Linked DNA regions of Homo sapiens: region 2 is linked to region 1. The links come from fine-mapping of genetic effects on gene expression. Tissue or cell type: testis. Region 1 holds a variant in brackets; the other region holds the start of a gene. All regions are shown on one strand. Distances are from middle to middle.

Evidence for each region. PIP is the estimated chance that this variant, and not a neighbour inherited with it, causes the effect.
Region 2: it holds the start of CSTPP1, and the variant in region 1 is fine-mapped to the expression of CSTPP1 in testis (GTEx, PIP 0.96).

What each region holds. Positions count from the first base shown.
Region 1 is chr11:47,044,699-47,052,801 of GRCh38, reverse strand. CSTPP1 (centriolar satellite-associated tubulin polyglutamylase complex regulator 1) reads right to left here. Exons shown (of 9, transcript NM_024113.5): 3 at 284-414. Among named protein-coding and RNA genes, the nearest start is that of CSTPP1, 110 kb to the right of the region's middle. The variant C/G (reference allele first, on the strand shown) is at 3,928.
Region 2 is chr11:46,932,569-46,940,671 of GRCh38, reverse strand. CSTPP1 (centriolar satellite-associated tubulin polyglutamylase complex regulator 1) reads right to left here and starts at 3,911. Exons shown (of 9, transcript NM_024113.5): 1 at 3,821-3,911. The coding sequence starts at 3,866. RefSeq lists an enhancer at 3,844-4,053.

The DNA.
Region 1 (8,103 bases):
AGTTACTACATGTAAAGAGCTACACTTGGCTCTTAATAGGTACCATTAGTGATGGTAGTGGTAATAGTAATATCTTTGACATAAACCAGACAACTCCTCAAAAGTGAGGTATTCTAAATGCCTTGAATAGCATGCATTCAAACAATATTTATAGGAACAAAAGAAAAAGTTTGAAAGAGAAAGAGAGGAAAAGAGAGAGAGAAAGAAAGAGAGAGAGAGGAAGGAAGGAAGGAAGAAAGGAAGGAAGGAAGGAAGGAAGGAAAAAGAATTTGGGAAGACTTACCGCCATTTTTGCCCACAGTTCGGAAGCATCTCCAGAAGGCCCGTAAAAATGATACCCTATTGTGGGGGGTGGCTTGGACGAAGCTGAATTCTCGAAAGAGAATGTGTGTTCCCTGGCATACACTGTTAAAACTGCAAAGAGAAAAGTCAAGAAGTCATTGTTAGATGGAATCCAGAAGGCTGGAATCAGAATGAAAAATTGAGACCAGAGAGAACCACTGCCAAAAACGGGGAATTTTTCTCCCCAACAAAACTCTGAACTCTAGATTAGACCTAGTCCTTCTATGGGGAAGTCTCTTCATATAACCATACCTTTCCGAAAACTCTTGGAGGCCAGTTCCTCTGAGTGCTTCCCACCTTCCACAGGTACACACAGAGGACATCTGAATCAGTCATTCGAGCAACGCATATGGAGGAAAGCCTTTTAGCCTCTAACTGGATGACACTGGCACTCATATCTTTCTTTTTGGAGAATACTTTTCCCTCTACTGCATTTGGAATTAGGTTTCCTTAAAGATATTATTTCTGGGCTGGGCGCAGTGGGTCACGCCTGTAATCCCAGCACTTTGGGAGGCCAAGGCGGGTGGATCACTTGAGGTCAGGAGTTGGAGACCAGCCTGGCCAACATGGTGAAACCCTGTCTCTACTAAAAATACAAAAATTAGCTGGGCATGGTGGCGTGCACCAGTCATTCCAGCTACTCGGGAGGCTGAGGCAGGAGAATCACTTGAACCTGGGAGGTGGAGGTTGCAGTGAGCCGAGATCATGCCACTGCACTCCAGCCTGATCAACAGAGTGAGACTCAGTCTCAAAAAAAAAAAAAAAAAAGAAAAAAGATATTATTTCTGTACTCTCCCTGGCCTATACCAGCTGCCATAAGGATGACATGGCTATGGGGACATAACTGGAGTGGCTGTTCCAGTTTGGGGTGGTTTTATATATCTCTCTGACAATAACCCCAGAGACAAATCCCATGTGCCAAAGGATATAAAGGGTCCAAACAGAACAAGAAAGGAAAATAGAAACAAGGGTATAAAGTGGCCCCTAAATGAGAGTATGAAGCAAAGCCCCAGGGCCCAAGTGAGTCATTGTTTAAGCTGGGCCAGGGAAGGGAAAAAAATATACTCCATTGCCTTTGGGTTTTCCTGCCAAAGAAATAAAGGCTGTAGAGCCTGGTGTAATCTAAAAGTGGAAATTCCACCGAAGAATAGGCAATTATCCAGTAATCATCCCTACCAGAGTGAACTTTAGGTTCCAGAAAACTTCTAAATTCCCTGACAAGTAAATCAGGAGTGGAAACATGTTAATCTTTGTGGAGAGGCAGACATTAAATTTGAAGATGGCAAGCAATGGGGGGAACGATGGTAATTCCAAATGCCAGTTTTCATTTGTTGACCATATAAAGGGGGGGAAAAATCTGACTCTGAATGGAACAGGAAAAAATTTCAGGAGGCATCTATTCCGTTTCCCTTCTCCTAGACCAACTTCATGGGAAAGTATCTAACTTGTCTTTAATATAGAGTGTGTTTTCATTTAGAATAAAGTTAGTTCCTTCCTAATAGTAACAGCACTGTATGAAAAAGCAAATTATATACTCTTCTCCTTTCATGGAGAGCTAGCATAGAAATCTACTTCTAAGACACCCTGAGGAAGTATGCGGACATCACCTGGCAAAAGATTAGGTTAGAAGAGGGGCTTTCAAAAGCAATGAAAGTGTTAACCTAACCACGCAGTGCTATTGTCTTAAGGAAAGGAAAATAAAAAATACAGCAAATGAGCTGTTATAGGTAAATGCAGTAGGCTACATTTCCAGCAAATGAAGTCTGAAATGATAATACTGTAGCCTAAATTTATGAAACTGTCCAGCAAAGAAGTAGTCCCAAATTGTGCTTCATATTCTAAGGGGGAAAAAGCTGATGTCTAGGTCATGGTCTAGTGAAATTATAGCTTTGGTATAGCTTTTAAAGACCATCTCAAATGCCAATTTTGTGTAAAGTCTTTTCCTGATTTTATCTCCCATGCCCAATTTCCATCGTATCTCACTTAAAACTCTCTAACAGTGCTCACAATTTGCTACTTTGTTTTAAAGTTACTGGACTTTCTCCTATTAGACTGTCAGTTCTATGGAGTAAGCACTTAGGCTGTACTCATCTTTGCCTCTACTATATTACCTGACTCATTACCTAACTGATAGTTACTCATAAATATTTGTGGAAATTGATTTAGAAAGATAAGAAAGACAGGTAAGTGATGCCAGGTAGAATGTATCTTTGAAGCTAGCCACACAGGAAATATTGAAAGTCTATATCTTACTAATTTTTCTAAATTCCAGGCTTTGAGTCTGATATTTTTATTATAATATTGCAATACCAGCTTTATTTTGATTGGTATTTTCCTGGTGTATCTGTTTCTGTGCCTTTAATAACCCTTCTAGGTCATTTTGTTTATGTATATCTCTTGTAAATAGCATATGGCTAGATTCTGCTTCTCTACCCAACCTTACAGTCACTATATGTTAACGAGTAGCTTTTCAGTGTATCTGATTAATTTCTGACCTGATATCTTATTTTGTCTTTCCCATTATCCATTCTTCTTTCCCTTTCCCCACCTTCTTTTCCCACCTTCTATTGTGTTAGTAAAGTTTTGTTTTAATTCTTTTCTACCCTCCCTGTTAGTTTGGAAGCTATAGACAAAATCTATAATCTTTCAGTATTAAAATTTAACATAATCAGCCAGGCATGGTGGTGCATGCCTGTAGTTCTACTCAGAGGCTGAGGATGGAGGATCGCTTGAGCCCAGCAGTTTGAGTCCAGCCTGGGCAATATGGTGAGACCCCATCTTAAAACATTAACATAATATTTATCTACATTGTTTTTCCCCAGACATTGTCTCCCACTGTCACCCAGTCTGGAGTGCAGTGGCCCCATCTTGGCTCACTGCAACCTCTGCCCTCCAGGCTCAAGCACTGATCCTCCCACCTCAGCCTCCCAATTAGCTGGGACCAAAGGCAGGCATCATCACACTCAGCTATTTTTTTGGATTTTTAGTAGAGATGGGGTCTTACCATGTTGCCCTGACTGGTCTCAAACTCCTGAGTTCAAGTGATCCACCCATCTCAGCCTCCCAAAGTGTTGGGATTACTGGCATGAGCCACCGCGCCTGGCCTATCTACATATTTTTGAAAATGTCTGAAAATACTCATTATCTTTATAACTCTCCAAAACAAGACAATGGGCCAGGCATGGTGGCTTATGCCTATAATCCCAGCACTTTGGAAGGCTGAGGTGGGTGGGCTGCTTGAGCTCAGCAGTTTGAGACCAGCCTGGGCAACATAGTGAAACCTTGATTTTATGAAACATTACAAAAATTAGCTGGGCATGGTGGTGCATGCCTTTGGTCCCAGCTACTTGAGAGGCTGAGGTGGGAGGACTGCTGGAGCCTAGGAGGTCAAGGCTGCAGTGAGCTGTGATCGCACCACTGCACTCCAGCCTGGGTGACAGAGCAAGACCCTGTCTCAAAATAAATAAACAAACAAAACAAAAATAAAAATAAAACAAGACAAAGCCCAAAGCACACTTTCTATAACTTATGTGCAGTCTTCTCATCTTCTGATATTATTTTTTAGAATGTGACTAGAATCTATCT[C/G]TTTTTAAATTGGAAAACTTTTTTAATGTGGTAAACTATACATAATATTTATCATTTAACCATTTGCAACTGTACAATTCAGTGTCATTAAATATATTCACAATGCTGTGCAACCATGAACACTATCAATACCCAAAACTTTTTCATCATCCCCAACAAAAACTCTACATCAATTAAACAACAACACCCCCTTCTGCCCACCCCCCAGACCCTCATAACCTCTATTCTACTTTCTATCTCTATATATTTGCCTATTCTAAGTACCTCATATAAGTGGAATCATGTAATATCTGTCGTTCTGGCCTATTTCACTAAGAATAATGTCTTCAAGGGCCGTACATGTAGCATGTATCAAAATTTCTTTCTTTCTTTCCCTCCTTCCTTCTTTCCTTCCTTCATAATTTTTAAATAATAGAGACAGGGTCTCCCTATGTTGCCCAGGCTGGTCTCAAGCCTTGAACTCCTGGCCTTAAATGATCCTTCAACCGTACCTTCCCAAAGTGTTGGGATTACAGGTGTAAGCCACTGCAGGGCCATAAATTTATTTTCTTTTTAAAGCAGAATAATATTCCTTTGTATGTATGTACCATCTATTGTTTATCCATTGATCTGTTGATGGACCCTTGGGTTACTTCCACCTTTTGGCTATTGTGAATAATGCTGCTATGATTTGTATACAAGTATCTGTTTCAGTTCCTTCTTTAATTCTTTTAGATGTATACCTACAAGTGCAATTGCTGGGTCATATGGTAGTTATAGGTTTAACCTTTTGAGAAACAACCGAACTGTTTTCCAGAGCAGCTGTACTATTTTACATTCTCACTAGCAATGCACAAGGGCTCCAATTTGTCCACCTCCTCAGCAACACATGCTATTTTCCTTTTTAAAAAACAGCCAACCTAGAAGATGTGAAGTGGCATCTTATTGTTGTTTTGATTTGCATTTTACCAATGACTAATGATGTTGAGCATCTTTTCATGTGTTGGCCATTTGGATATCTTCTTTGGAGAAATGTCTCTTCAAGTCCTTTGCCCATTTTTAAATTGGGTTGTTTTGTTGTTGTTGAGTTGCAGGAGTTCTTTACATATTCTGGATATTAATTCCTTATTGGATATATGATTTGCAAATATTTTCTTCTATTGTGTAGGTTGTCCTTTCACTTTCATGATAGTATCCTTTGATGCACAAAAGTTCTTAATTTTGATGAAGTCCAATTTATCTATATTTTTTGTTCCTTATGCTTTTGGTGTTATATCCATGAAATAATTGCTAAATTTAATGTTATGAAAACTGTCCCCTGTTTTCTTCTAAGAGTGTTGTAGTCCAATTTCATTCTTTCACACGTGGATATCCAGTTTTCCCAGCACCATTGGTTGAAAAGACTGTCCTTTCCCTATTGAATTGCACCTTTGCAGGAAATCAAATGACCATATATGTAAAGATTTATTTCTGGGCTTCCTAATCTATTCCAGTGGTCTATATGTTTGTCCTTATGCCAGGACCATAATACTTGAATTACTGTGGCTTCATAGCTAGTTTTATAGTTGGGAAGTTTGAACTTTCCAATTTTATATTCTTTTTTCAAGATTGTCCTGGCTATTCCATATGATTTTGAGGATTAGCTTCTTCTCTCAGTGAAAAAGCCTATTTATTTTGATAGAAATTTTGTTGAATCGCCAGGTGCGGTGGCTCACGTCTGTAATCCTAGCACTTTGGGAGGTTGACGCGGGCAGATCACCTGAGGTCAGGAGTTCAAGACCAGCCTGGCCAACATGGTGAAACCCTGTATCTACTAAAAATACAAAAATTAGCCAGGTGTGGTGGCGGGCACCTGTAATCCCAGCTTTTCTGGAGGCTGAGGCAGAAGAACCGCTTGAACCCGGGAGGTGGAGGTTGTAGTGAGCTGAGATTGAGCCACTGCACTCCAGCCTGGGAGACAGAGTGAGACTCCATCTCAAAAAAAAAAAAAAGAAAAGAAATTGTGTTCAATCAACCAGCCTGACCAACATGGTGAAACCCCATCTCTACTAAAAATACAAAAATTAGTCGGGCATGGTGGTGGATGCCTGTAATCCCAGCTACTCAGGATTCTGAGCAGGAGAATCACTTGAACCTGGGAGGTGGAGGTTGCAGTGAGCCGAGATCACGCCACTGCACTCCAGCCTGGGTGGCAGAGTGAGACTCTGTCTCAAAAAAAAAAAAAAAAAAAAAAAAGAAAAGAAGATAAAAGAAAAGAAAAGAAAATTGTGTTGAATCAGTAGATTGCTTTGGGTAGAACTGACATGTTAACAGTGTTACATCATCCTATCCATGTACTCAGGGTGTCTTTCTATTTATTTAGCTCTTCTTTAATTTCATTCAGCAATGTTTTATAGTTTTCAGTGTGCAAGTCTTTCACCTCCTCAGTTAGACTTATTCCTAATAGACTAAATCTTTTGGATGCTCTTTTAAACAGAATTGCTTTTCTTAATTTCCTTTTTAGATTGTTCATTGATGGTATATAGAAACAACTGATTTTTATGTGTTGCTCTTGTCCCCTGCAACTTTGCTGAATTCATTTATAAGCTCTAGAAGTTTTTTTTTTTTTTTTTTCTTTTGGTGGATTCTTTAGGATGCTTTTTATGCATAGGACCATGTAACCTGTGAATATAGTTTTACCTTTTACTTTCCAATTTGGATGTCATTTATTTCTTTTGATATCTACCTTTTCCTTTTTTTTCCTTTTTTAAAAAATTCACCCCCATACCTACAGGACAATATACCTTTTTAAATGTAAAAATTACCACTTTAGGCTGGGAGTGGTGGCTCACGCCTGTAATCCCAGCACTTTGGGAGGCTGAGGCGGGTGCATCATGAAGTCAGGAGTACAAGACCAGCCTGGCCAACATGGTGAAACCCCGTCTCTACTAAAAATACAAAAATTACCCAGGTGTGGTGGCAGGTGCCTGTAATCCCAGCTACTCGGGAGGCTGAGGCAGGAGAATTGCTTAAACCCGGGGGACGGAGGTTGCAGTGAGCCTAGATGGCACCACTGCACTCCAGCCTGGGCATCAGAGTGAGACTCCATCTCAAAAAGAAAAAAAAGAGAAAAAAGAAAAAAATGACTACTTTAAAAAAATCAATAATTAATTAAGTTTACCTACATTTATCAAATCAATTTTCATGCTCACTACTGTTTCCCACATTCTGCTCCTTCACTCTTGGTTCAATTATTTCTTGCTAAAGAAATAAGATCCATAATCCTTTAATAAGATCCATAATCACTTATCTGAAATCCTGGGACCTTTCTGGTTTGGAAGTGACAAATTTTGAGATTTTATAAAGGTTGCACAAACCAGATGTGATATAACACCTTCAGCAGGGTTGGGATAGCACCCCATGGATTCAAACATATTAAAGTCTCCACAGTGAAACATATAAGTATTCACACTAAGTGGGATAAACAAAGACCAAAATTAGCCCATGAACTAGTTTAGGTCAAGTTTGCCCCACAAATGAGGTTGCTGAAAACTTACCAAAGGACAACTTCAGGTTTTCAAAGCTTTTTTTGAATTGTGAAATTTATTAATATACATAAACCTGTAGTTCTTTCAGCAAAAGCCTGTGAGTGGTAAATGCTCTCAGTTTTCATCTACCTCAAAATATCTTTATTTTACCTTCTGGAGTGAAATTTAATTCAGTGGAGAATTCTGGTTGTTACTTATCTTCTCTCAGCACTTTAAAGATACCACCCAGTTGTCACCTCGCACCTATCACTGATATCAAGCAAACTGCTGTCAAACTCCTGCCATTCCTTTGGAGTTAATCATTCTTATAATTCATATAAACAATTTTCTTTATCATTAATGCAGATTCTACAATGTATCTACCATGTAGGTTTATTTTTATTTATCTTGCTCAGTACTTTAAACTGACTTCTGTTTTTTGTCAGTTCAGGAAAATTCTCAGCCCACATATACATTTTTTGAGACAGGATCTCACTTTGTTGCCCAGGCTGGAGTGCAGTAGCATGACCATAGCTCACTAGAAGCTTGAACTCCTGGGTTCAAGTGATCCTCCCACCTCAGCTTCCTGAGTAGCTGGGACTACAGGTGCACACAACCATGCCTGGCTAAACTTAATTTTTTTGTAGAGATGGGAGCTCGCTATGTTGCTCAGGCTGGTCCTCAAGCAATC
Region 2 (8,103 bases), 110 kb after region 1:
TATATATATGTTCATGTATATATGTGTATATATATAGCTTTCAAAGACCAATCAGCCCTTAAACTTGGTAAAAAGGCACTCAACTTCATTTAAAAATGCATATTAAATCTACTCAGACTATCTGTCACTTAGATTGAAAAAAATCCAAGTTTGATGTATTTTGTTGTCAGCACAATGGGGAAACAGGCATTCTCTTTCATTGCTGGTGGCAAAATGGTACAACACCTATTAAGGGCAATCTGACAATATCTATAAGTACTTCAATGCATATGCCCTTAATCCACCAATTCCACTTTGTGGAACTTATTCTTGCAGATACACTTGCAAAGGAACAAAACTGCAGGTTATTCATTGCAGCATTCTTAGTAACAGCAAAAGGCTAAAAACAACTTGTTTACCAGTGCGGGACTGGTTAAATAAATTATTTAAATACTATATAGCTAAAAATGAATTTCATGAAGAACGAAGAAGCTCCCTACTGACTGAGAAATTACTTCGAGGCCAGGCGCAGTGGCTCACGCCTATAATCCCAGGACTTTGGGAAGCCAAGGTGGGCAGATCGCTTGAGCTCAGGAAGTTCAAAAGCAGCCTGGGCAACATGGAGAAACCCTATCTCTACCCAAAATACAAAAACTTAGCCAGGTGTGGTGGCTCGTGCCTGCAGTTCCAGCTACTTGAGAGGCTGGGGCAGGAGAATGGCTTGAACCCAGGAAGTGGAGGTTGCAGTGAGCCGAGATGGTGCCACTGCACTCCAGCCTGGGTGACAGAGTGAGACTCTGTCTCAAGAAAGAAAGAAAAGAAAAAACAAAAGAAACGGAAATTACTTCAAGATGTATTAAATGAAAAAGTATGCACTGTATACTCCTTTATGTATATAATAAACTCTGGAAAGATACACAGGAAAACAATAATAGTGGTTACTTTTGGGAGGCTGAGGATGGATGGAAACTGGGCAGATGGAGGCAAAGGGGTAGGCTTTTCACTAAAAACATCTACCTATCTATCTATCTATCTATCTATCTATCTATCTATCTATCTATGCATTTTAGAGGCAGGGTCTCACTCTATCATCCAGTCTGGTCTTGAACTCCTGACCTCAAGCAATCCTCCTACGTCAGCCTCCCAAAGTATTGGGATTACAGGCATGAGCCACCATGCCAGGCCTAAAAAATACTTTGAATCAAGTTTCCATATTACCAACCTTAAAAAATATTTTAAAATTAATTTTTAAAATAAGTTAAACAAAATGTAAACCAGAATTGTTTTTCATTTAAAAAGATGTTGGCTGGGCGCGGTGGCTCACGCCTGTAATCCAAGCAGTTTGGGAGGCCGAGGTGGGTGGATCACCTGAGGTCAGGAGTTTGAGACCAGCCTGACCAACATGGAGAAACCCATCTCTACTAAAAATACAAAATTAGCCAGGCGTGGTGGCGCATGCCTGTAATCCCAGGTACTAGGGAGGCTGAGGCAGGAGAATCACTTGAACCCAGGAGGCGGAGGTTGGGGTGAGCCCAGATCGCATCATTGCACTCCAGCCTAGGCAACAAGAGTGAAACTCCATCTCAAAAAAAAAAAAAAAAAAAAAAAAAGATGTAAGCCAGGTGCAGTGACTCACACCTGTAATCTCAGTACTTTGGAAGGCCACAGTAAGAGGCTTGCTTGAGCCCTGGAGTTCAAGACCAACCTGGACAACATAGTGAGACTCTTTCTCTACAAAAAATTAAAAAATTAACCAGGGATGGTGGCATGTGCCTGTAGTCCCAGCTACTTGGAAGGCTGAGGTAGCAGGATCACTTGAGCCCGGAGGTTGAGGCTGCAGTGAGCCGTGATAGTGCCACTGCACTCCAGCCTGAGTGACAGTGCCAGACATTGTCTCAAAAAAAAAAAAAAAGAAGAAGAAAAAAAAAAAAGATGTGCATGGTACATCCATACAATGGAATATTATTCAGAAATAAAAAGAAATGAGTTATCATGCCACAGAAAGACATGGAGGAAACTTAAATGCTTACTGCTAAGTTAAAGAAGCCCATCTGAAAAATTTACACACTGTATGACTCCAACTACATGATATTCTGGAAAAGGCAAAACTTTAGAGACCATAAGATCAGTGGTTGGCAAGGGCTGCAGGGGGAGGGAGAAGGATCAATAGGTGGAGCACAGGGGATTTTTCAGGACAGTGAAACTATTCTGTATGATAATGGAATGGTGAATACATGACATGCATTTATCAAAACCCACAGAACTGAACAACACAAAGAACCCTAATGTAAACTATGGACTTTAGTTAATAATATGTATCTATAATAATATATCTATATAATAATAATAATATATAATATATTATTATATATTATAAATATATATGTTTATCCATTGTAACAAATGTACCACACTAATGCAAGATGTAAATAATAGCGGAAACTGTGAGTGAGGGAGACCCAAGGTATATGGGAACTCGCCGTACTATCTGCTCAATTTTCTGTAAACTTAAAACTTCTCGCCATGTGCAGTGGCTCACGCCTGTAATCCCAACACTTTGGGAGGCCGAGGTGGGCGGATCACCTGAGGTCAGGAGTTTGAGACCAGCCTGACCAACATGGTGAAACCCCGTCTCTACTAAAAATATAAAATTAACCTGGCGTGGTGGCGCATGCCTGTAATCTCAACTACTCGGGAGGCTGAGGCAGGAGAATCGCTTGAATCCGGGAGGCAGAGGTTGCAGTGTACTCCAGCCTGGGCAACAGGAGAGAAACTCTGTCTCAAAAAACAAAACAAAACAAAACAAAACGTCTTTAAAAAAATAAAAGTCTATGAATTATTTAAAATGTGTATTGTGGCCGGGCGCGGTGGCTCACGCCTGTAATCCAAGCACTTTTGGAGGCTGAGGCGGGCAGATCACGAGGTCAGGAGATCGAGACCATCCTGGTTAACACGGTGAAACCCCGTCTCTATTAAGTATACAAAAAAGTAGCCGGGCGAGGTGGCGGGCGCCTGTAGTCCCAGCTACCCGGGAGGCGGAGCTTGCAGTGAGCCAAGATCGCGCCACTGCACTCCAGCCCGGGCGACAGAGCTAGACTCCGTCTCAAAAATAAAATAAAATAAAATGTGTATTGTGTGCATATGTGTGTGTGTGTACATATCTATGCGTGTGTGTGCCTTTTTTCATTCATTAAATGCCTTATACACTAAAGATGCTCAACAAAGTACTACATATACAGTCTTAGCTCAAGAGCCAAGTCAATATCTCAAGTTCTGTTGGAGTGGGCAAATCCGGTTCTGATCCTAGCGCTACCATTTTCTAGCTGTGTGGCCTAACTTAACGCAAGTTACCTCTTCAGCCCCAGTTTCTCCACCTGCAAAACTGGAAGAAAACACGGTAATTCCTCCTAGGGCTGTTGAGAAATTCAAATGAAGAATGATGCATGAAAAATGCTTAGCACAGTGCCTAATGAAAAAGAAAAGCTCGAAATGTTCGCTGACTGATTTGGCACTTGAGGTTCCAAGGTTATTCTTACTCCACTACCAGCATATCAATAATACCCCAACAGGGCCCCAAATCCTCAACGCCAACCTGACCCATTTGAACACAATCCACATTGCCTGAGTTCCAGCCCCTACACTTCAAACATTCTTTACTTCCCAGGTGCTTTTTTCCTTCCTGCTCGGCCTTACAGGCTCAGGCCCTGGAACCCCCGCCTCTCCGCCCCTCCCCATACCACCCGGACCCGATCCCACTCAGACCCCGCCCCCGCCTCCTCCCAGACCCTGGCCTAATTCGTCTGCACGTCTTTCCCTCCCCAAAGTTAAAGGGGGTTCCTACCCAGATACTCGTAGTCCGGTAGGGCTAGGCGCTCCGGACTCAGCATCCTTTGACCGGGGTGGCTTCAAAGCTCCAGCTCTCCGGCTTCCGGAACCCAGGTTGCCGTCTCTCTCCGTTGCCATGGCACCCACGCGGCGGAAGGGGGACGGGAGCTGGAGGAGGTGTCACACAAACAGTCTCCGTGTCGCAAAGTGGAGCTGGCCACTCAAGTTCCGGGGGCAGTCGCTTCACGATGGTCCAGGTTTCTTTGGACTCCCATTCTTGAAGACTTGGTTTTAGAGGAATCTGAGATGAAGAATTCTTTTGAATCCGTTATGTTTCCCAGTGTCGAAGAATTACTGTCAGCCGCCCATATACGCAGTTTCTGAATTTCATAACTATCCCTGCTTTTATACACTGTTTATCCTAACTCAGTAATAGCCCCCGCCCTTTGGCCCCCATAAACACTTAGTATCCCATTAGCTATTTTTATCTCTTTGGTATTTACTATCTTAAATTGCTACAAAGTGCTTACGTATGCATATACCCTGGATGCTTCTAGAGGTCAGAGATGTGTCTTTTCTGCCTATGACGGCTGGACACACAAAAGGTACTCATTAAGTCCTCTGAACTAATTGCCATTTCTTCTCAATTCTCACTCAGTCGCCCAGGCTGGAGTGCAGTAGCGTGATCTCGGTTCATTGCAACCAGCGCCTCCCGGGTTCAAGCGATTCTCCTGCCTCAGCCTCCCAAGTAGCTGGGATTACAGGCGCCCGCCACTCCGCCTGGCTAATTTTTTGTGTTTTTAGTAGAGATGGGGTTTCACCATGTTGGCGAGGCTGGTCTGCAAACTCTTGACCTCAGGTGATCCGCCGACCTCAGGTGATCCGCCTGCCTCAGGCCTCCCAAAGTGCTGGGATTACAGGCGTGAGCCACCGCGCCCAGGCTCAATTCCTTTTTATCTTTGGTTCTTCTTTCTATTCCTAGCCCTTACTATTTGGTACCTTTCCCAGGTGTCTTTCCTTTTTCCTACCAAGACATTGCTCTTCTTGAGGGAGAGGGGCTGCAGAAACGAGGACACCAGTTAGATTTTTTTCCCTATATGCCCAATTGCTCACTTCTTCTTTAAGAGAATATTCACTGGTTTTCAAGTTCCTAAATATTTCTTTTCGCCCCTCTCCACTCCTGACAACAGGTCAGAGATCTGTAGCACTAGACACAGTTCAGACATAGCAGAAAAAGCCACTCTGTCCTCACTTTTTTAGTGCCCTCCCCCTCCAACAAGGTGAGGTTTGTGAAAAAGAGACAAAGAAAACAAAATCAAGCTATCAAAGGAATGACTGGGAAACCAGTAGACCACCTACACTGGGAGGAAAAGGAAAGAGGAGGTTCTTCTCTTTGTGTTCCGAGTGGCCTATTCTTAGCGTCCTCCAGTAAGGAGCCTCAAACCTCCTAATTCTTGCTTTCCCTTAAAATTGTATATGTGTCTCAATTCTAGGCTCCTGTGAGTCACTCTAAGTTTGGATGTGGTGAGGTTAAAAGGACAGAGCCAAAGTAGGAGCAGGGCTTAGTGTCTTGAGGCAAATTTACTAATTTGGTATTTGGTGTGAAGTCCAGCAAATCTGATTTTTTTTTAATTGCCTTCTTATCTGCTTCCCCCATCTAGCTTGAGGTTATGGGAGGTTCATATGTTCCATAACTGTGGCTTTTTACTATTTTATTAATAAGGTAATACCATAGTAATTATTAAGTGATAATTTTACTTTATTCCCAAGCAACTTGTAGCTATTTGCAAATAATCTTATTTGTCCTCATAAAAACTTTCTGCTGAGGTGGGCGGATCACGAGTTCAGGAGTTCGAGACCAGCCTGGCCAATATGGAGAAACCCCATCTCTACTAAAAATACAAAAATTAGCCAGGCGTGGTGGCGCACGCCTGTAATCCCAGCTACTCAGGAGGCTGAGGCAGAAGAATCACTTGAACCGGGGAGGCAGAAGTTGCAGTGAGCCAAGATCGCACCACTGCACTCCAGCCTGGGCGACACAGCGAGACTCCGTCTCAAAAAAAAAAAAAAAAAAAAAAAAAAAACCTTTCTAAGGCACTTTTCCATTTTCTAACTAGGGAAACTGAGGCACAAGTCACAACAGTGACTTGTCTAGTGACTTGTCTAGCATCATGCAGCCACATAGTGGTAGAGCTACAACTGGATCTCAGCTATCCCAACATCCAGGCCAGTGGTCTGACCACTAAACCACACAGTCTCTTTTTTTAGGGTTTGTTGACCTGGCTTTTATTTATTTATTTTTCCTTTTGCTCTGCCCTGCTAGCAACTGGAAGCTCCCAGATAGAAGAAGATAATGTTGAGTCCAGGCTGAACATTTGACATCGTCTTATTTGTGGAGCATTATCCTGGGACTTGGCGGGTGCTGGCTGCTGGGGTCTGTGTGGTGGAGCTGGGAACCAGCCCCAAGAATATAGCTTTGTTTGGGCATTAACCCATTTGTGGTTATAATAATGATAAGTTTCAGCACCAGTGGCGCCCGACTGTTAATGACTCAAAGAAGGCTAAATAAGAACAAGATGTCATCTCTGGAGCAATTTGTAGGTTTTTCCTACAGTTCCATCCCTTCCATAAAAATCCGAAGGACCCCTGTATTCAAAGTCAGTCTTCCACTCTGAATGTCCTGAACAGTCTATTGAGGAGGAGGACTTAGAAAAGTAGGAGGTTGCTAGAGTAAGGCTTCACAAAAATTTGAAGTTTCACCGAAATAACAGGTGGCCTTACTGGTAGTGGAATTACTGACTGTTTACATTTTTCTTCTTTATATTTTTCTATAGTCTTAAACTTTCTATAATAGGCATGTATTATAACCTGAAAACAAATAATAAATGAGTGGCCTGAAAATCTTTAAAATTTTTTAAGCAGATGTGATGACCTTCCAGACAGTGTTTGTTTTTCCCAAAAAGAAGCCACTGCTAGATTTCTCTTCTGTCACAGATTACATGATAATAGATTTTTGAAACACATTGGTTATTGGTGAAATTTTTCAATGAAACATACACTACATCAGTCTTAAGAAGAGTAGAAATATATAAGAGTTGTTAAAATTAAGTGTATTTTTTGTGACTTGAATGTGAAAGAAAGAAAAAAAATGTCAGCCTTTGATTTAAATTGACTTTTCAGGTTCTTAACTTATCATAATATATTTCTTAAAAATTTACCAAAAAAAAAAATCACCGAGGTAAATCGGTAAGTCAGAAGACAACTCCATAATCCTGAAAAGAGGCAAGTGATAAGATATTGATGATAAATAGAGCATCGGATGTTAAAGGCAGTACTACAGCATGACGACTGTAAACATCAAATTCAGAACAATAAGAAAAAAACAAGAGAGAGAATATATTGAGATGGTTTTTGTTTTTGTTTGTTTGTTTTTTGAGACAGAGGCTCACTCCATCATCCAGAAAGGAGTGGAATGGTGCAATCTCTGCTTACTGCAACCTCTGTGTCCCAGGTTCAAGCCATTCTCCTGCCTCAGCCTCCCGAGTAGTTGGGACTACAGGTGTGTGCCACCACACCCGGCTAATTTTTGTATTTTCAGTAGAGACAGGGTTTCGCCATGTTGACCAGGCTGGTCTCGAACCCCTGACTTCAAGTGATCCACCCGCCTCAGTCTCCCAAAGTGCTGGGATTACAGGTGTGAGCCACTGCACCTTTTGTTTTTTGTTTGTTTGTTTGTTTTGTTTTTTAGTATATATAAGGTCTCCCTTTGTCACCCAGGCTGGAGTGCAATGGCACAATCACAACTCACTGTAGCCTGGAATTCTTGGGCTCAAGTAATCCTCCCACCTCAGCCTCCTGAGTAGCTGGGATCACTGGTGCATGCCACCACATCCAGATAATATTTTTAATTTTGTAGAGACAAGGTCTTGCTAGGTAGCCCAGGCTGGTTTCGAATTCCTGAGCTCAAGCAATCCTCCTGCCTCAGTCTCCCAAAGTGCATGAGCCACTGCACCCAGCTGAGACATCAATTTATCAGATTATAATTTCTGATTTTATAATGAGAAAATTAATAGACATCTCTGGCTCTGCAGAAGACCTATTAAGAGATTGATAGGGAAGAAAATCCTCCCTATAATTGAAGACTATAGAAAAGCAAACGGTGAATACACTAAACAGTTTTAAACTTCAAGGAAGCAATAAGGAAAGAATAAATGCAGGCTGAATTATTGCTATAAAACAGGTTCAAGAAACTAGGACAAGCTTTTATCAACTGATCAAGCAGAAAAGATGCTAAAGGCA